Regions from separate parts of the Homo sapiens genome. Here region 1 is linked to region 2. The links come from fine-mapping of genetic effects on gene expression. Tissue or cell type: liver. Region 2 holds a variant in brackets; the other region holds the start of a gene. All regions are shown on one strand. Distances are between the middles of the regions.

Region 1 (10,020 bases), 46 kb after region 2:
CCTACCCTTTGTGTTTTTTGTAGAGACGAGGTATTGCTATGTTACCTAGGTTGGCATCGAACTCTTGGGATCAAGCAGTTCTCCTGCCTGGCCTCCCAAAGCGCTGGGATTACAGGAGTGAGCCACTGTGCCTGGCTGAATTGTACACTTTATTTATTTATTTATTTATTTTGAGACAGAGTCTTGCTCTGTTGCCCAGGCTGGCGTGCAGTGGCATGATCTCGGCTCACTGCAACCTCCGTCTCCTGGGTTCAAGCGATTCTCTTGCCTTAGCCTCCCAAGTAGCTGGGACTACAGGCGTGGGTCATCACGCCTGGCTAATTTTTGTGTGTGTGTGTGTGTGTGTTTTTAGTAGAGGTGAGGTTTCACCGTGTTGGCCAGGCTGGTCTTGAACTCCTGACCTCAGGTGATCACCTGCCTCGGCCTCCCAAGGTGCTGGGATTACAAGTGTGAGCCACTGCGCCTGGCCTGAATTGTACCCTTTAAATGGATGAATTTTATGGTATTTGAATTATATTTCAATAAATCTGTTAAAGAATCAATGGCCATGCTTGTGTGGGTGCACTTGTTCCATTGATCTGTCGGCTGACCCTCTGCCAATTCAGCCTGTCTCAATTGCTTTAGCTTTATGGTGAGTTAACATCCATTAGTGATGGCTGGGCACGGTGGCTCACACCTGTAATCCCAGCACTTTGGGAGGCTGAGGTGGGTGGATCACGAGGTCAGGAGATCGAGATCATCTTGGCTAACACAGTGAAACTCCGTCTCTACTAAAAATACAAAAAATTAGCCGGGCGTGGTGGCGGCCGCCTGTAGTCCCAGCTACTCGGGAGGCTGAGGCAGGAGAATGGCATGAACCCAGGAGGCAGAGCTTCCAGTGAGCCAAGATCATGCCACTGCACTCCAGCCTGGGCTACAGAGCGAGACTCAGTCTCAAAAAAAAAAAAAACCCAAAAAAACAAAAACAACAACAACAAAAACATCCATTCGTGAGAACCCTCCAACTTTTTCCCTTCTTTTTCAGAATTATTTTGGCAACTAGTTGCTTTTCATTTCTATATACATTTCAGAACAAGGTTTTCTATACCTATAAAATTTCCGACAGGAATTTTAATTGAAATTGCATTAAATCCGTAGTCGTTTTGGAGAGAATTGGTATCTTAACTATATTTGTTCTAATTCAGGAACACAGCATGCCTCTCACATATTTAGGCCTTCTTTGATTTCTTTTATCAGCATTTGGTAGTTTTCAGTATACAAATCCTGTACCAGTCTTGTTAGATTAATACCAAACGAATAAATTTACTGGGGGACCATTTTAAATAGCATTGCTTTTAAAAATTTTGGTTTTCAATTGTTCATTGCTAATATATAGAAACAGGACTGAGTTCTGTGTTTTCATCCTGCAACCTTGCAAAACTCACTTATTAGTATTCTGACTTTTTTGTTGGTAAAATTCTTGGGATTTTCGACATAGACTTTTATGTTATTTATGGATAGGGACATCTTTATTTCTTCCTTTCTAATCTGTATGCCTTTTATTTTTCTGGTTTTATTGCATGGGTTAGGACTGCCAGTACACTGTGGAACAGGAGTGAATAGAGTGGACATCTTTACCTTGTTCCTGATCTTAGGGCTCAGCATTTAGTCCTTCATTATTAAGTATCACATTAGATGCAGAGGTTTTTTTTTTTTTTTTTTTTCTTTTTTGGACAGGGTCTTCCTCTGTTGCCCACACTGGAGTGCAGTGGTGCGATCTTAGTTCACTGCAACCTCTGCCTCCCAAGTTCAAGCGATTCTCATGCCTCAGCCTCCTGAGTAGCTGGGATTACAGGTGTGTGTCACTGTACCCTGCTAATGTGTGTGTGTGTGTGTGTGTGTTTTAAGTAGAGATGGTGTTTCGCCATGTTGCCCAGGCTGGCATAGAACTCCTGAGCTCAGGTGATCTGCCTGCCTTGGCCTCCCAAAGTGCTGGGATTACAGGCGTGAGCCACCACATCCGGCCAGATTGTTTTGTATTTTTTGTAGAGACAGGGTTTCACCATGTTTCCCAGGCTGGTCTTGAACTCAAGCTCAAGCAATCCGCCCACTTTGGCCTCCCAAAATGCTGGTATTAGAGGCATGAGCCACAGTGCCTGGCCTAATTTTTTTTTTAATTAAAAATAACAGATATGGAATCTCTCCATGTTGCCCGGGCTGGTCTTGAACTCCTGGCCTCCCAAAATGTTGAGATTGCAGGGGTGAGCCACCATGCCTGGCCTGTTGTTTTTGTTGTTGCTTTTTGTAGATTCCTTTTATGAGATTAAGCATGTTCCCTTTGCTTTCTAGTTTGCTGAGAGTGTTTATCAGGGATGAGTGTTGAATTCCGTCAAATACTTTCTTTGAATTGATTGAGATGATCACATGGTTTTCTTCTTGAGACTAATATGGTGGATCACATCGATTTATTTTCACATGTTGAACCAGCCTTGCCTTTCTGGGATAGCCTCCATTTGGTTGGGGTATTTGTGTGTGTGTGTTTTTAATGCTGCTTGATTCTATTTGCTGATAATTAGTTGAGGGTTTTTGTGTCATGTTGGCATTGGCGGCTGTTGATTGTCTTTTCTCTTGCAGGTTGGATTTCCTGATTCTTCACATGCAGAGTAATTTTAGATTGTCTCCTGCACATTTAGACATTATGTTATGAGACTGGTCTTATTTAAATCCCATTGAGAATGTTGGCATTTTGTTTTATCATGCAATCAACCTAGTTGGTTTCAGGCCACAAGTTCAAATAGGCTCCTGTGGGTCCTGCCTTCCATGTCGGTTTTGTTTTCAAAGCCTTTGCAGTGGGACTCAGATCTGTCCTTCGTATGCACTGCCCAGTGGCCAGTGTGGGACGTGGGCAGTGGGCTGTCCTTTTGTTCAGTTCTCAGCCTTTGGGATGTGAATGAGGGTTTAGACTTGTACATCATGTATGGCTTGCACAACTTCCTGGGGTTGCTTTTTTTTTTTTTTTTTTTTTGAGACAGAGTCTCACTCTGTTGCCCAGGCTGGAGTGCAGTGGCAAGATCTCGGCTCACTGCAACCTCCATCTCCCGGACTCAAGCAATTCTCCTGCTTCAGCCTCCCGAGTAGCTGGGATTACAGGTGTGTGCCACCACGCCCGGCTAATTTTTATATTTTTAGTAGAGATGGGGGTTTCACCATGTTGGCCAGGCTGGTCTCGAACTCCCGACCTCAGGTAATCCGCCCACATCGGCCTCCCAAAGTGCTGGAATTACAGGTGTGAGCCACCACGCCCAGCCCATGGATTGCTTTCTACTGCTTCTCCCTGCCCACCATCTCTCCAGCGACAGGGGACCACATCTCCTGGGGCTGGAAAGGAAGGCTCTTCTGCCTCAGCGTTTTAGGTGCTTGTAAACCCTATGCCTTGGTCATGGCTTTGGTGGGATACCTAGGGGCTGGGGCATCAGAGAATGGAGAAGAGTAAAAAAACAACCACTACCAAAAAACCCCATCCTCCCAAACCCTAACATCCCCCCGGGCATTCTCCTGCACCCTGGGAGCATTAGGCGACCTTTTTCTTTCCTCCCCTTGTGCCAGGACTAGAGAACTTCTGGAGCTCTCTGTCCTCTTCTGGCTTTCAGGCCGTGTTGAGTCCAGGCCCGGGGATACGGGAAGAGAATCTGGAAGTTCACTACCAGTTGGGTGGTGCCTCAAATTCTGGTCTTTCCACCAAATCTGGTGTCCCTTTACCTCTCTGACCCTCAGTCTCCTCCTATGTCAGAGGGAAGTCACAGCAGTTCTGGGAAGGAGGGCAGGCAGGCAGAAGGTGCCCTCGGGTTCTTCTCTGGCTCACACGGGATGGACAGGATGTGGGGGGAGGGGCTTAGTGCCACCTCAGTGACAAAATGAAGCCCAAGTCCCCAAACCCTAGCTTGCCTCCTGGACGGGCTGGAGAAGAAGGTGGGGGCCGCTCATCATTCCTTTCCTCTGCCCTGAGAAGAAACCTGGGAAGGCTGGGTTTCTCCCCAAAGAGGACAGAGGGTGGCGCGGAGGGCCCCGGCGGCCAGGCCAGCCCCGCGCCTACATCCCTGTCAGCTCCTGGGCCGGTGGGCGCCTGTCCGGCTGAGTGGGGTCGCTCTAGGGGGCGGCAGCGGAGTTTCAGGGCGCGGGGGGCACTGGGCGGGACCCTGGGATTCTGGGCGGTGGGTGAGGAGGGTGGAGACGGGACTCCGCGCCTGGGGGTGCGCGAGGGCGCCCCGCTCCCCAGAGCCACCAGTCCTGCGCGCCGCCGCGCGGTGCTGTCGCCGTGGCAACCGGCGCTGCGGAGGGGGCGGGGCACCGGCACCCCCGCGCTCCCAGGTCCCCAGGTCCGGCGGGGCTCGCGGGCCGAGGGGCGCGGGGCGGGGCCTCTGGGTCGGGGGCGGTGCCGCGCGGGCGGGGGAGGGGCGCGGCGGGAGGAGCCGGCGCGGCCCCGGCAGTGGCGGCAGAGGCTGGGCGGGCGGGCCCGGGAGCGGCGCAGCATCTGCGGGCGGCGGGGTAGGCGCGGGCGCGGGCGGGACTGGCTGGGTGCGCGGCTGCGTCCGCGGAGGGGGCGGCGGGCCTGGGCGACCCTGCACCTCTGGGCCGTGGGGACTGTGGGGTGGGGCGGGGGCCGATGCGGCAGGGGTGAGGCCTGGGGCCGGCGGGGTGACGGGGACCCGGCCCTGCGTGGGGAAGCCTCGGGGGGACAAGCAGAGACGCAGCCTGCTGGGAGCGGCCCAAGCTCTGCACCGGCCCGCGGCGGGAGCACAGCAGCCCCCTCCCGCCCCTCCTCCCGGGGGCTCCGAGGGGTGGTTATGGGGCGAGGGTCCTTGCGGGGCCCGGGCAGTGAAGGGCCTGGAGGCCCCAGAGTCTGTGCCAGGTCTGAGCCGCGGGGCGTGGGGGGAGGAGGGGCCTCGGCCGGGGCCCAGGAGACCCAGGACAGGTGGGCCTGGGGCCAGGTCCCTACGGAGAGGTGGCCGGGCCGGGCTCTGGCTTGCCGGGGTAGGGGCTCCGCTAGGGGCTGGAGTCCGTCCCTTCGCCAGCGCAGAGCCCCTCGGCCCGCATCTGCCAAGTGACTGAGGATCGAGCGACAGCGTAGTGGGGCGGAGGGGCTGGAGGCACGGCCGGAAAGGGTGAGCGGCGCCGTGGCTCCCCCGCTATTTATTTGGCCCCGCCACGCGCGGAGAGGGAGGAAATTCTCAGGCTGCGGCTGCAGCTAGGGGAGGCCCAGGTGGGCCTGGAATGGGCCCAGAGAGGGCTTCCTGGGTCAGACGTGTAGATCCAGTGGACGTGAAAACCGGGTGAGTGTCCCGGTGGGACCCAGAGCGCGGGGAGGCTTGGAGGCAGGGGCATGGGCTGAGGACCCTCAAGGCACCCTCCTCGCGACCTGTCAGAGCTCCGAGGGGTGGGGGTGTCCTGTGTGTGGCTGTGGGGATCCTGGGCGGCGGGTGCTGGGTGGGGGCAGGGGTGGGAGTGCAGAGTTCAACGCTTTCCCGGATCGGTGGGGCCTGCGGTGTCACCAGGGCAGTCCGAGCGCCCGACTGTCACGGGGACATTAAATTTTATGCCTTTGTCTAGACACGGCAGTAAACGGAGCCCCAGGCCTGGGGCTGTGGAGGGGGTGAGGGGCTGGCTGGGAGTAAGCCTGTCAGTGACTTTGGGGTGGGTGCGGGTGTGCGGGCCTCCATTGTCACCCAGGTGTGCACAGGCCCAGGTGCGGGGACTCCGACAGCACGGCCATGAGGACCAGTGCCAGGTGTGTGACAGAGGTGCAGGGGCCTGTGGAAGCCCGACGGGCCTTGGTGGACGGGCTTCCCGAGATTCGAGGGCAGCCACAGGCATCGCCCTGGCGCAGAGGAGCAAAGCAGGGTGGCTCTGCCGGGGCAGAGGGTGGGGGACAACACCTCGCCAAGGCAATGCGGAGCCATGGGGAGCAGGGCAGGCAGTGGCCACGCGCCCAGGATGGTGGACAGGAGGGGAGACCGAGCCTGCCCGTGCAGGGAGGAGGGGCGTGGGGGCTGCCGGGCAGGGGCGGGGAGGCTCGGAGAGGCTTGTGGGACGGATGCATCGGGACCTGGGTGGCTCTCGGTCCGGGATCAGAAAGCCTGGGAGGGCCGAGGCCTCCTTGGGTACTCCAAGAGCGGAGGGGCAGGCCCGCCTCCCTGCCCAGTGCGGCGGCGGGGAGAGGGTATTCCCGGAACTCCGCGGAAACGGCCTGAGGCCAGCAGCGCGGGCGTGGGGTCCGGGCCGCCGGAGCCAGGAGGGAGGGCGGCGCGGGCCCAGCAGTGACAAACCCCCCCGGGCTCCGGGAACGAGCTCGGCGGGCAGAAAACGCGTCCGTTCCGTTTCCTTCCTGGCGGCGGGAACGAGGCCCGGGTGCTCTGGCGAGGCAGCAGCGCCCTCTGGAGGCCTCGCTGTGGTTCGCGGCCGCCGGTTCGCGCATGGGCGCAGGCGTGCGCGATGCCTCGGGGCCCCGGCGCGGAGACCGCGCCTGGTGGGAAGCACGCGGGGTGCGGGGGGCGGGGGGTGTTGGGGGAGGCCGCTCCAGCCCGCACCCTGATCTTGTCTCCTCCGGTCTCCCCAGGTTTCGAGCTCGCCGGGCCGTGTCGCGCCATGCCCGCTGGCTGAGCGCCGCAGGGCCTCGTCCCGCCAGGCGTGGGGGCCGCGCGCGCCCAGGCCGGGGCCCGGCGGCCGACCATGGTGCTGCCGCCCCCGGACCGGCGCCACGTGTGCCTGACCACGCTGGTGATCATGGGCAGCATGGCCGTCATGGACGCGTACCTGGTGGAGCAGAACCAGGGCCCGCGCAAGATCGGCGTGTGCATCATCGTGCTGGTGGGCGACGTGTGCTTCCTGCTGGTGCTGCGCTACGTGGCCGTGTGGGTGGGCGCCGAGGTGCGCACGGCCAAGCGCGGCTACGCCATGATCCTGTGGTTCCTTTACATCTTCGTGCTGGAGATCAAGCTCTACTTCATCTTCCAGAACTACAAGGCGGCGCGGCGCGGCGCGGCGGACCCCGTGGCGCGCAAGGCGCTGACGCTGCTGCTGTCTGTGTGTGTGCCCGGCCTGTTCCTGCTGCTCGTGGCGCTGGACCGCATGGAGTACGTGCGCACCTTCCGCAAGCGCGAGGACCTGCGCGGCCGCCTGTTTTGGGTGGCGCTGGACCTGCTGGACCTGCTGGACATGCAGGCCAGCCTGTGGGAGCCGCCGCGCTCCGGGCTGCCGCTGTGGGCCGAGGGCCTCACCTTCTTCTACTGCTACATGCTGCTGCTGGTGCTGCCGTGCGTGGCGCTCAGCGAGGTCAGCATGCAGGGCGAGCACATAGCGCCGCAGAAGATGATGCTGTACCCGGTGCTCAGCCTCGCCACCGTCAATGTGGTGGCCGTGCTGGCGCGCGCCGCCAACATGGCGCTGTTCCGGGACAGCCGTGTCTCGGCCATCTTCGTCGGCAAAAACGTGGTGGCGCTCGCCACCAAGGCCTGCACCTTCCTGGAGTACCGCCGCCAGGTGCGCGACTTCCCGCCGCCTGCGCTATCACTGGAGCTGCAGCCGCCACCCCCGCAGCGCAACTCGGTGCCGCCGCCGCCGCCGCCGCTGCACGGCCCGCCTGGGCGCCCCCACATGTCCTCGCCCACGCGTGACCCCCTGGACACGTGACAGGGCCCGCGCGGCCCCCGACACGCCCCTGGGGCGCAGAGACACCGGGTTGGCTTGGGGCGCGCGGTTTGCATGGGATGGGGTGGGGGCGGGCTCCCCTAGGGACAGGTGCCTCGAGTGCCCGTGCCTGGGGTCCCGCGGCCGCTTCTTCATCTCAGGAATCTCTCGGACCGCGGATCCTCAGCCCCCGCTCCACCAGCCCGCCCCAGCGCGTGGGTCTGTTTGGGAGGCCTGGGCCGGAGCAGAGCAGAGGTGATCCGGCCCCTGCCTGCTGGGCCGCCCGGGTTGGAAGGGAGGGCAGTGTGGGCGGAGATCTGCTCCTTCGGTGGGGGCCTCTGGCTCAGATTTGGGGCCAAGGAGGCCTCTGTCATTTTAAAGACTCGTGTTTACAGTTTTGTATCCAAGGCCGCACTGCTTTGCCTGTTCCTGTGTCCCTGTGTTTACCAGCCAGGCTGGGAGGCGGGGAGCCAGGAGGGGTGTGTGGAGGGCGGGGGAGATGGTGGCGTCCAAGTGCCGGATGCTGGTGAGGCTGGGCCGCTCCACTTCCTCCGGGGCTCTCAGGAGCTCCTGGGGGCCACTGCCGCTCTGTCCCAGGGACAGCTCCTCCACTCCAGCTTCGGTGTTCCCAATTATCTTCCTGGGATACCTTGACCCCCATCTTCCCCCAGCACCGTAGGTGTCCTGGCCCCTGCTCCCCTCAACCTCAGGCATGACAGTGTCTCCCACATCCCTGGTTTCCTTCTCCCCCACCGTGGAACCTACCTTCCCTGTGGGCTCCTCCAGCCCAGGACAGCCACAGCCAGATGGAATCAGGGTGTTCCCAAGTTGATGTGGCAGCCCCAGGTCGCAGCCCCAGGAGCAGCACGGAGCCTGGCCCCACCTTACCATCCTGGCCTTGCCCCAGCACGGGAGCTGGCAGCCCCTGGCACAGGCAGCACCCGCCCTGAAGCCCATCTGCAAGGGGTCTCTCACCTGCCTTCCACCTGGGACCCTGTACCTGTGATGTGGCCCTGGGTATCCACCTGGCCTGGGAAGGTCCGTAGCATCTGGGGAGGGGCCCTTTATGAGGCTGCTAAAAGAATTGTTTGAGGATGCCCGCTCCATGAGCGGGTGATGGTCACACACATCTCATGTGGCACAGTTCACTGCCTGGGCCTTCGCTTCCCGCATTTCCACGGCCCAAAGGTGGCAAGGTTTAGCCAGCCAGGGCTAAAACCATCGAGGGGAGTGGAGCTGGCTGCTCAAGTGGGGTCCTCCCCAAGTGCATTTCCCAACAACTGCAGCAGTTAAGGGCGTGGCTGGTGGCAGCCCCAGCCGCACCCCGACCCCACACAGTCCTCATACCCCAGCTCCAGGCCACCTGGGGTCTGGCCTTTGAAAGTCGCCTGCCTTCCAGGCAGCTGGCCTCGGGACCACTGTCCTCAGGGTCCCGGGCAGGGGGACTACCTCGCTGTCCAGGTCAGACGTGGCCGGCGCTCTGCCCACCTCTAAAACCGTGCCTTGGCCCCGGCCTCCGATCATATCCCCAGCAGCCCCTCCAAGCGCCGAGCGCCGTGGGTGGGCACGGGGCGCTGGCCTGGGTAGGAGGTCAGAGGCGCCCTGCTCTGGGCTGTGCCCAGGCCACTAATGATCGTGTTGGGAAGTGGAAGGTCTGCAGGATCAAGGGGGCTGGGGGGCCGGGGAGGGGCGGTGATGAGCAGCCGTGGAAAGGCCCCAGGCCTGGCATGGAGAGAGAAGAGGGGCTGTGGGAGTTGCGTGGGCCAGTGGGAGGACCTGGGCCTTCTTGGGAGGGAGTGGTCTGGAGTGGGGGGTAGTGGGTGAGGGGCGAGCTTCATTCTGCCTGTCTGGGCTGGAGCCTGTTTCCTCCCCTGGCTGAAGCCAGTGCCGGCCCCATCCTGCCTTAAGGGTCTCCTGGGTGAAGACGAGCCCACAATCATCTTGGCTCTGGCACCTGCAGCAAATCCCATGGGAACAGACAGGCAGCGTGGCCATGGGTGAATGGAGCTGAGGGGCTCTGGGCTCCTGACATCCTGCTCTGACCCTTCCTGAAAGCCCATGGTCTCTTCCATGCTGGCTGCAGTCTGGGAGGCGTTGGGCCCAGCTTGGCCTGTGAAAGCTGAAAGCCCACACCCCCTAGTCAGAGGCTGGTTTAGCTACTCCCCTAGTTTAGCTACTCTTGGGGCAGTGAAGGCCCTGGGGCTCGAAGACCTCCCCAGGCAACCTTACCCTGCACACACCCCACTCCTCCTGGCCTGTTCAGGGGTGGTCCCTGGTCTCCGTGCTCCTTGGCACAGGCCAGTGCCCTCTACCTCTGCCACCACATCCCTGGCAGTGGAGGTCCAAGTCCTGGCTGTC
Region 2 (10,020 bases):
CCACTGGGCTTCCCCGGCTCACAGGCTGGAGGGGGTTGAGGGGAGGTTGTATTTTGCCCGTCCCAGAGGGGAGGGACCGGATTTGGCCTGGAGTGCTTCTGGCGTGGCTGGGAGCCGAGGGGCTTCCGGCTGCCTCTCCTGGAGCCCGCTCAGCCCTCAGTCTCTGTCCCAGCGAGGGCTGTCTCTGTAAGGCTTAGGGTGGGAGACGGTCCCCAGGGCCCTTCTGCAGTCCAACTGCCCATGACTTTACCCCAGGCCGGGCCAGGCCAGCCTGGGGCTCTCCAGGGTCTCGGCCAACAGTCCTGTGGACAGCCCGGAAAGGCCTGCCTGCCTGGCCCGCCCAGCCTCTCAGCGGAAAACAAAGGCGCTTCAGACCCGGCTGGCTTCTGTCCTGCCTGGGAGGCACTGTGAGGGCGAGGGTCCAGAATCCTGCCCACCCTCACACCAGGCTGCCCCCGCAGCTCATACCTGAGTAGAACCCAGGCTGGGATGTCGGAGCACATTGAGGAGGCCACCCCAGAGCCCATGCAGCCAGGGTGGGCAGCTGGTTTTCTTCTGAGCCATTAGACCCAATCGATTCTGTGTTCCCAACTCGGACCCGTAATGTGTGGCCATTGACCCACCCAGTGGGTCTGAGGGCCAGTTCCCTGCCCCCACTTGGCCCACGTCCCAGAGCTGGCCAGAGCACAGTGCTGGCAGCCCTGGGCTGCAGCTGCCACGGCCGATAGCCACCGAGACTTCCTTGCTGCTGCTGGGACACGCCTGCCCACCGTGCAGCCAGCCCCTGCCTGCCCTGGTGTGTCCCAGCTTCCTTGAGTGGAGTGGTTCTGGTCAGAGGGCTCTAAGCTGGTGCAGCCTTGTGGTTGGGCTGGTGTCCTGGAGGCTGGCCCTGGCCATGCCCAGAGGGTTGTACCAGGGCCACGGAGAGCCAGTATTCACAGCCCTCTACCTAGTAGGCCACCTGGGGGATCCCATCTCACTGCCAGGAGCAGCACCCTTGGGCCTCTCAGAGTGGGCTTCGCCCTAGCCAGATGCCCCTCCCCGATATCTGCCAGACAAAGGGGGCTGGGCCACTTGCTGAGAAAGGGAGCTGGGAGAGCCACTGGTCCTCGGCCACCTGAGGGGCTTGGCCAGATTCTGCCGGGCAGGGTGGGCCCAGCCTGCATGCTCCCTCCCCCCAGGGCCTGCAGCTTGTCCCCTTCCCTTCAGAATTCCGGCTCTGCTGGGCCCTTCCTGCCCCTCCCCACCTCTTCCTGCCTGGCTCCCTAGGGAGGCCCCTGCTTCCATCCACTGGGAAGCAGTCCAGTAGCCCCAGTGTGGGGGTGGGAGGCAGTGGCAGAGGGTCCCGGACCCTCAGCAGCTGCCCTCAGATCTTCCATGCCAGTGGCAGCCAGGGGCATTACGGCGGGGGGAGAGCTCAGGGTTTAGGACGAGGAATCCACAGACAGATGAGGGTCCCGCCTGGAGGACCCACGGGGACGGGGCCTGGCCTTCCCATGAGGGAGCTGGAGGTTCTGGGGCTGCACCTTTGACTCAGCAGCGGGGTGCTGCCAGCCCCATCAGGGCCCAGTTGGTGGGGATCAGGGGCGTGTCAGTGCGAGGCAGGTGTGAGAGGGAGAGCAGCATGTGTTGAAGCAGGTGCACTGCAGAGGCAGGTGTGTGAGTGTAAGAGAAGTGTTTGAGGGAATGACAGGTGGGGGAGATGCATATGTGTGGGGGGAGGCAGGTGTGTGGGGGGAAGCGGGTGTGTGTCTGAGGAAGCGGGTGTGTGTGGGGGGAAGCGGGTGTGTGGAGGCGGGCGTGTGGGGGAGGCGGGTGTGTGTGTGAGAGGAAGGTGTGTGGGAGGAGGCAGATTTGTGGGGGGAGGCGGGCGTGTGGGGGAGGCGGGTGTGAGGCGGGTGTCCGGGAGGCAGGTGTTGGAGCGCGGGCAGGTGTTGGAGCGCGGGCAGGTGTTGGAGCGCGGGCAGGTGTTGGAGCGCGGGCAGGTGTTGGAGCGCGGGCAGGCTCGAGCACAGGCCCCTTCACCGCAGGCACTGAGGGGACTAACAGGGCAGCCCCGGGCCCCTTCTCAAAGGCGGCTCTAGCGGGGTTCCAGGGCTGGGGGCGCTGAGACCCAGAGGGAGAACAGGGCCTGGGGGCGACGGGCTCCTCCGGGTCTCAGAAGGAGGGGCAGGGCCCGCCAGGTGGAAGGAAGGCGCCTGGGAGACCTCCTGAAAGTGGGGACCCCCGGAGCGCGTGGGGGTGGTGGCTGCCAGGTGGGGGCGGAGGGGGTGCGGGGCGCGCCCCGGCCCTGACCCCCCTGCCGCCCCTCCCGCTCAGCCGAGAAGGTGAGCTCCCTGGGGAAGGACTGGCACAAGTTCTGCCTCAAGTGCGAGCGCTGCAGCAAGACGCTGACGCCCGGGGGCCACGCCGAGGTGAGCCCCACTGCGCGGCGCGGGCGGGGGCGGGGGTCGCGACTCCCGCCACCCTCAGGCAGGGTCCTGACCCGCGCCCCTCTGCGCAGCATGACGGGAAGCCGTTCTGCCACAAGCCGTGCTACGCCACCCTGTTCGGACCCAAAGGTGAGCTCCGGCTGCCCTCGGCCTGCCCTGGGACCTGCTGGGAGGGGCGTGGCGCTGGCGCTGGGGAGGGCTGGGGGTCCCGGCCGCCGTGGATCCCCGCCCAGAGTCCCTGCCACCCTGGAAAGCCTAGTGCCCCCCAGTCCCCAGCGGGCCGTTTTCTGAGATGCCCGGTGGCCGCGGCCCCCACCCCACGTACCCCCGCCCCACGTACCCCCACCCGCAGGCGTGAACATCGGGGGCGCGGGCTCCTACATCTACGAGAAGCCCCTGGCGGAGGGGCCGCAGGTCACCGGCCCCATCGAGGTCCCCGCGGCCCGAGCAGAGGAGCGGAAGGCGAGCGGCCCCCCGAAGGGGCCCAGCAGAGGTGGGCTGGGCGCGGGCTGGGGCTGGGGGTTGTGGGCACGCGCGGGCTGGGGCTGGGGGTTGTGGGCACCCCCGGCCCCGCCCCGCCCTGACTCGTGCGCCCCACAGCCTCCAGTGTCACCACTTTCACCGGGGAGCCCAACACGTGCCCGCGCTGCAGCAAGAAGGTGTACTTCGGTGAGTGCGCGCCCGGGCCCCGGACCCCCGCCCCCGCCCCCGCCCCGGGGCTCGGCCTCACTCCTCCCCCTTTCCAGCTGAGAAGGTGACGTCTCTGGGCAAGGATTGGCACCGGCCCTGCCTGCGCTGCGAGCGCTGCGGGAAGACACTGACCCCCGGCGGGCACGCGGAGGTGAGGGGAGTGCAACGGGGCTTGGGGGCCGGGCAGGGGCGCGGGGTCGGGGGGATGAGGGTGAGAGGCGCGCCTAGAGGGGATGGGGGGTGGTGCTTCTGGGAGCTGCGCTGCCCTCTCCCCCACGGCGAGCCGGCCTGCACGTTCTGGAAGCCTCCAGGTGATGGGTCGGGGGAGTCTGTGGACTCCTCCCTCAGCACCCACCTTCTGCCCCAGCACGACGGCCAGCCCTACTGCCACAAGCCCTGCTATGGAATCCTCTTCGGACCCAAGGGTGAGTGTAGCCAGGGTGGTCCACGATGTCTTCCCTGCCCTCCCCTTCCCTCCACTGTTCCCCCGACCCACCCCAGCGGCCTCCCTCCACAGGAGTGAACACCGGTGCGGTGGGCAGCTACATCTATGACCGGGACCCCGAAGGCAAGGTCCAGCCCTAGGCTACAGCGGCTCTCATGATGTGGGCTCACCTGCGCCCCAGACCCTGCAGGGGCCCCCCTGCTTGGCTCTGCTGGGAGAGTGCTCAGCCGCCCAGTCCTGCCTGCAAGCCCAGGGCGAGTATTGGAGGAGGGGCAGCCACGGGCAGAGCACCATGCCCATCCCCGAGTCTCTGGTGTGTCTGCCCCCTCTGGCATCCTCTGGGCGTCCCATGATCCCTTCTGTGTCTGCGTGTCCGAATCCCCGTGTGACCCTGTCCCAGCATTTTCCCGCCGACCCTGCGTGTCCCCGTGGCGCTGTCCGCTCTCCCTCTCCTGCTGCCCACCCACCTGCCAGTGTTATTTATGCTCCCTTCGTGGGTGATGGCCACGCCCTCACCATGTCCCTGGCAGAGGGCTTCCCTCCGGGATCCCCTGCCTGGTGCCCACACTGCCTCGCAAGCGCTCGCCACCCTCACGTGGCTCACCTGCTGTTGAGCCTTGTGCTGTCAATAAACGGTTTGAGGATTGCAGGATTGTCTCTGCTTGTGGGATGGATGCAAATCCCAGACCAGGGTCCCTTTCTCCGGTCCATGCGTGCTCCCAGCCAACACCCCTGGGCCTGGCTGCTAGTGGGGGTGGGCTCTTCTCCTGGGGGTCATAGTGGGAGGTGGGGCCCTGGGATGTTTCTGAGCAGGAGGGAGGGATGGGGGCGGGGAGCGTGGTCTCCGGTTTGGGTGGTGGTGCCCACCCAGATGGGGAGGCAGTAAGAACGCCAGGCTGTGGGGAGGTAAGGAAGGTGGGAGGCATTCCGGGGCCAGGGTCCTGGCCAGGGTCAGGTGAGGGTGGGGTCCATGGAGGACAGAGCCTTGGAGAAAAGTTGAACCTAGAACCCTGAAAATACCAACAGCAGGCCTGAGAACCCGGAGCTGCCTGGGTGTGTGGACCCTGGCAAGCGCAGGAGGGGTCCGCCCTGAGAGCAGAGTGTGGCTGAGGAGGGAAGGGGGCCGGGGACCAGAGGAGGGGTCCTGGGCAGAGAATGGGGAAGCCGGCGAAGG[T/G]CGGGTGGGACAGAGGTCTCTGGCAGCCCCAGACTGGACTGGGATGCGCAGGAGGGTTTGGGGGCTCTGGTCAGAGCAAGGACTGGAGAGGCTCAGCGTGGCTGTTTCCAGCTTTTGTCCATAGGGTGATGGACAGGCTTTTGTGGACAGGCCTGCCTTGGGTGTGGCCCAGGGACAGAATCCCTGCCCAAGTGTTCTGGTGAAGGTTTTAGTGATGACCGACTCGCCCCTGGCGTCTTCATGGTCCAGGCTCTGCCCTTTCAGCCAGGGGCGCTGGCGGCTCCAAGGAGCTCTCCCCTCCCCCGCGCCCCGCCTTTGCTGTGCGCCACTCCTCGGGTGCCCACTAGAGGGCGCACTGTCCCATTCTGGCAGCACAGAGCAGAAACGTGGAGACCTTCCCCAGTGGCTGAGCCCTGTCCTGGCGCCATCTGGACTTCCCACCTTGGTTTATGCTCCTCTGCTCCTGGCACCACACCGAAGTTGCCTTGGCCCTTCCTTCAGTGAGGGGCACTCAGACCTGGCCACCTCCAGGCCCCTGTCCCCAGTGCTACAGGGTGGCCGGGGCTTTACGCCTCTTCCCTGCTCCCAGCCGTTGGCACAGCTCCCTGCCTGGCCACCCTCCAGCCCATGGGCTCAGACGGAGCTGAGCCTGGATGCTGAGCCCATTGTCCCGAGAGCAGCCATCCATGTCCTGGCGGGGCCTGGGCTGGCTCCGGGGTCCAGCCGTACCACAGCTGCCCTCCAGCCAGGCACCCAGTGCGGTCTCCTCCCACCTGGAATTCAGCCAAAACCCCCGGGGCCTGACGTTGCGGAAGGGACGGCCAGTCCCCAACCCCAGGCAGAGGGGAGGATCAGGCAGGTTCCAGACCCCTGCTCACAGGAGAGGCTGGGATGGTTCCCCTTCTCATCCCCTCCTGCCAGGCCCAGGCTTCCTTGTGTGTGTTGGGGGGTTGTTTCGGGAGAACTGAGAATTTCCGGAGTGCCCGTCTCCGCCCTTGCTGCGGGCTCCCAGGGTTGCATGGGAAATTCCTGCTTTCAGCTTGGCGGGGCGGGGGGCGGGGGGGGGACTGGAGGGCTCAGCTGGACCCCCCTCCCTTGGGAGCCTCCAGTGGAAACTATGTCGTGAGGAGAGTGGTGGGTGGTGTGCCCTTCTCTAAAACCTGGGCGGCGGTGGGGGATTTGTGTGCCAGAAGACCTTCCAGGGTCGGTTGCGGGGATGATGTGGGTAAGGGGTCTCCTCCAGAGATCAGCCCCTGACCCCGCCAGGGACAGCAGCACCCCCGACCCCAGGTCTGGCTGGGGCAGGACCATTTCCTGCGGGGCCGGTTTGAGGATGACGCCTGCCTGCCGTGTTTGTTTCCAAGTCATTGTCATGGAAACCGGGGCGGTTGTTGCTACTGTTTGTCTGGACTGCGTCGCTAGGCGGTGTTGCTGGGGTTGGCTGGGTGCCCACGGCACTAACAGGGCTCGCTTGGTGTCTCCAGCTCCAGGAAGCTATGCCCTCCCAGCCGCCTGCCAGCCAGGTGCTCCCTTGGGTGCCCACAGACCCAGATATCCCCTAAAAGGGAGGGGAATCTGGAATGGGCTCTTCTGCCTTTGGGCGTGCCTGCTTCTCTGTCCCTGCCTTGGGGGCTGCTCTGCCCTCAACCTTCACTCTCTTCTACTTGGACCTATGCCTGGCCAGTGAGGCGGCTCTGAAATGCTATCTGCTCCATCCCTCCCCTTCAGAACCCCTGGGAACCAAGTCCAGGGATCCACAAGGCCCTGGTGCCCCATGGGGCTAAGCTCACACCCCGGCGCTCTGTTGAACCGAGCTGTGCCGCTCCCCGTCTGTACCCCCACTGTCCAGTCTTCCCGTGTCTCCTGGCCAGGTCCCTCCAAGGTATCCCCCACTCCAACCTGGGCTGGTGGGGCCCTCACTGGTGCCCCCAGCCAGGCATCTTTGTGGGGCCAGCTCAGCCTGCAGCTACCCCTGTCTCCACTTCTTCTGGCCCCTGCCCGGGACCCCCAGCACCCTTCCTCCAGGCCCTGCCCAGCCAGTGACCGCAGCATCGGCCCTGGGTACCCCTGCTCCCAGGGTCTTCCCTAATTCCTGGACCCCTTCGGACTCCACACAGCTGGGACTAGCGCCCCTGACCCTGACCCTCCACAGGACTTGGTGGGGCACACCTCCCTCCCGGCCCTGGGTCCAGCTTATTGGGGGCCGGCGGTAGCCTGAGAGGTGGATGTGAGGAAATCACCCAGTGCCGTGGGCCCCTAGCTCTGGACCGTGGAGGGCTGGGCACAGGCAAGGGCAGGCTGGAGGACCAGGACGGCCAGGTATGGGCAGCACTTTTCCCAGCGCCTGATGGGCTTCCGGTGGGGATGTGGGGTCCAGCTGCCAGGCGGGGAGGCTGGAATTCCAGCCTCTGGAATTCCTGGGCTATGGCTGTAGGATGCTGGGTACTAGGCCCAGCCTCAAGAGAGGGGAGGGAGGTCAGGGGCACCCCATCTGGCCAGTCTGTGGAAGCCAGGCAGGGGTGCAGCCCCGCTGGGGGCAGGGCTGGCTGAGGGAGCCCCCTTCTTCCCTCTTTCCACACCTTGCCACGTCTGCTCTGGGAGAGGAGGAACTGCGCAGCCTTCCCACCTGCTCGGGGCTGGAGGTGAGGCCTGGAGGACAGGAGGTGCCTGTCTGGTAAGCCTGTCCCATGCCAGCCCCATGCCAGGTCTGCCCAGGGCAGGAATGGCCACTGAGCCCAGCACGGCCAACCGGGGCCAGACCACAGGCCAGACAGGGGGTCCCGGGAGACAAGCAGCTGAAAATAGACCCTGGGAACTTGGGAGTGTCTGAGACTCAGCTGGGCCGAGAGGGAGGGGCAGGGAGGTGGGCCCTGGGGAGGCCTGAGCTGGGCGTGGCCGGCTCCGCGCTGTCCTGGCATGCATGTTGGCAGTGCAGGGCACCTGGTTGCAGAGCATCCAGGACAGGCCTGGCTGGCCTGCAGCCCCGGGAGGGCACCTCACACCTGCCCACACTCTCAGCCTGGGCATGGGGCAAGGGGAGGTGGTGGGGAGGGCTCCAAGGACAAGGAGGGGCATCTCAAGGCAAGTCCCCAAGCTGAGTCTGCAGAGGAAGGGGCTGTGGGCCCAGAGGAGCAAAATGTTCCTAGAGGGGTGGACGGTGGGATTCCTCAGGGACAGTGGGGCCCAGCCCTGCCTCCTGGGTTACCCTGGTTCCTGGAGCCCAGGCCTGGCTGCAGGCTGCCGCACCCCAGCCCCTGTGGGCTTCAGCCAGAGGGCCAGCAGGAGCAGGCCAGGGCGCAGGGATGTGTGCAGAGGGCGGGCTGAGCAGACAGAGGCGGCCTCCAAGATGCACCCGGAACACTGCAGCAGCCCCCGCCACCCCCGGGTCTAGGGCCCTCTTGCTGTCCAGGTGCAGGGTGGAATGTTCTGGGCATAGAGGCAGCCTGGGGCGAGCAGCTGCGGAGCTCCGAGTCCCTGCCCCGACCACTCTGTCCTCTGTTTGTTCCTGAAACAAATGCCACCAGCACCCTGCAGAGTGGGCTGAGAGGTACAGGGGCTGGGGTTTCCAGCCAGCCCAGTGGGCCTGAGTCAGGCTGGCCCCATGGACGAGGTCAGTGCCCTGTCCTAGGTGCATCCCCGGCCAGGTGAGAGCTGACAAAGCCTGAGGCCTAGTGACTGGGCTGGGGCTGGTCGGGGGCAGTGTGTCCCGGAAGCCGGCAGGACCCTGACCTGCTCAGATGGAGGTGGGCGTTGGGGGTGGGATGGCCTGAACACGGAGTGTGGGTGGAGAAAGGAGCTGGAAGCTGGGGTCCTGCAGCTGATGAGGGGTCCCCACCCCCAGAGCACAGGGTAGATGGGGAGCACAGGAGAAAGGGGGTCTGAGGGGCATGTCAGTCTGTGGCTGAAGTTTAGGAAGGGTTCCAGGGATCGTGTGTATGTGACTGTGTGTGTGTCTCTGTGTTATGTCTGTGTCAGTGAGGGTGTGCGTGTGTATCTGTGCATGTGTCTGTGTGTATCTGTGAGTGTGGGTGTCTGAGTTGAGTGGAAAAACTGCTGTGAGCCAACACAGAAGGCGTGGCCCCACGGCGAGGGCATCCTGCCCCCCACCCCACCCGTGACCATGGTGACAGGAAGCAACAGCAGGGAAGGCCAGGAATGGACTCATCACCCTGGTTTTCAAGGAGGGGCTCCTCCATGGGCAGGGTGGGTTGGAGTCCAGAGTGTGGGGGAAGGGACCATCCCTGGGGGCGGGTAGAGGGGAGGACAAGGACTGGGTCATTGTCCCTATCTGCCCTGGCTAATGTCCGTACATGAGCTGCAAGGTACCGGGCCAGGAGCTGGGATGGGCTGGGGAGGAGGCTTGACAGAAATATGGGCGGACAACTGCGAGAGGGACCACACACATGCTCGCGGGGACCCCAGAGACCCCTGATGGACACACCCATACGGGTATGTCCACGGGCACCAGGCACACACGTGTGCATCAGGCACTTGCCCTGCACCTCTGCACCCGGAGCACGTCATCCTGGTGGGGGTGTGGACAGCGGTGCTGGGCACCCTGGGGCTTGGGGGCAGCGCACGCCCCAGGGAAAGTGCAGTGACAGAGCCCCCGGCCTCCCCAATACTGTCCGGGCTCCCCTGGCCTCTCCCCCTTCTTGGTGCCTCTGCCTCTCCCTCTGCTTGTCTGCAGGTTTGTCCCACGATGCCCCACACTCAGTGGAGATGGCAGGTGGGCCCAGACCTCAGAGTGGGTTTCAAGGCTCATGGGCTGGAGAGTGGGGGTTCCAAGTTTGCAGGACAGGAGCGCACCCCTACTCTGGAAACCTTATCTCTGAGGTCTCAGAATGGGGGATGAGGAGGGCTCCAATGGGCCCCTGTGGAATGTCCTATCAGACCCCAGGACTTAGCCCCAGTCGGGGGACAGAACTGTGGCCTTAGAGGGGCGCCAGGAGGAGGGCAAGCAGGATGTGGCCTTGGGCTGGGTGTGCTGGTGTGGGGCTCTCTGGAGTGTGGCCTCTGTGCCAGACGCCTGTGCCTTGGCCGTCCTACAGCCCTGCTGCCCCTGCCCTCTCCCCAAGCTGGGGACTGGTGGCAGACAGGGCAGGGCAGGCGGCTTCTCTTCCTCTAAGTGCAGGCCTCGAGGTGCCGACAGGGGTGCGGTAGGATTCAGGGAAAGTGAGGTTGGGATCACAGGTGCAGTTAGGGCTCAGGGCCCGACAGCGGTAGGCCAGCGGCTCCTGGGGCCCAGGAGGATGGTCTCCAGCGCCCCCAGCGGGGAC

What was found. PIP is the estimated chance that this variant, and not a neighbour inherited with it, causes the effect.
Region 1: TMEM121 starts here. The variant in region 2 is fine-mapped to the expression of TMEM121 in liver (GTEx, PIP above 0.99).

What each region holds. Positions count from the first base shown.
Region 1 is chr14:105,522,130-105,532,149 of GRCh38, forward strand. TMEM121 (transmembrane protein 121) reads left to right here and starts at 4,454. Exons shown (of 2, transcript NM_025268.4): 1 at 4,454-4,524; 2 at 6,593-8,069. The coding sequence starts at 6,706. The coding sequence ends at 7,665. LOC105370697 (a long non-coding RNA gene) reads left to right here and starts at 9,726. Exons shown (of 2, transcript NR_135205.1): 1 at 9,726-10,020. RefSeq lists a silencer at 6,112-6,321.
Region 2 is chr14:105,475,947-105,485,966 of GRCh38, forward strand. It overlaps CRIP2 (cysteine rich protein 2), which reads left to right. Exons shown (of 8, transcript NM_001312.4): 2 at 2,320-2,414; 3 at 2,504-2,561; 4 at 2,785-2,925; 5 at 3,033-3,101; 6 at 3,179-3,273; 7 at 3,490-3,547; 8 at 3,640-4,216. The coding sequence ends at 3,707. Among named protein-coding and RNA genes, the nearest start is that of CRIP1, 5.9 kb to the right of the region's middle. RefSeq lists enhancers at 4,871-5,592, 5,261-5,370, 6,151-6,470 and a silencer at 4,981-5,130. The variant T/G (reference allele first, on the strand shown) is at 4,742.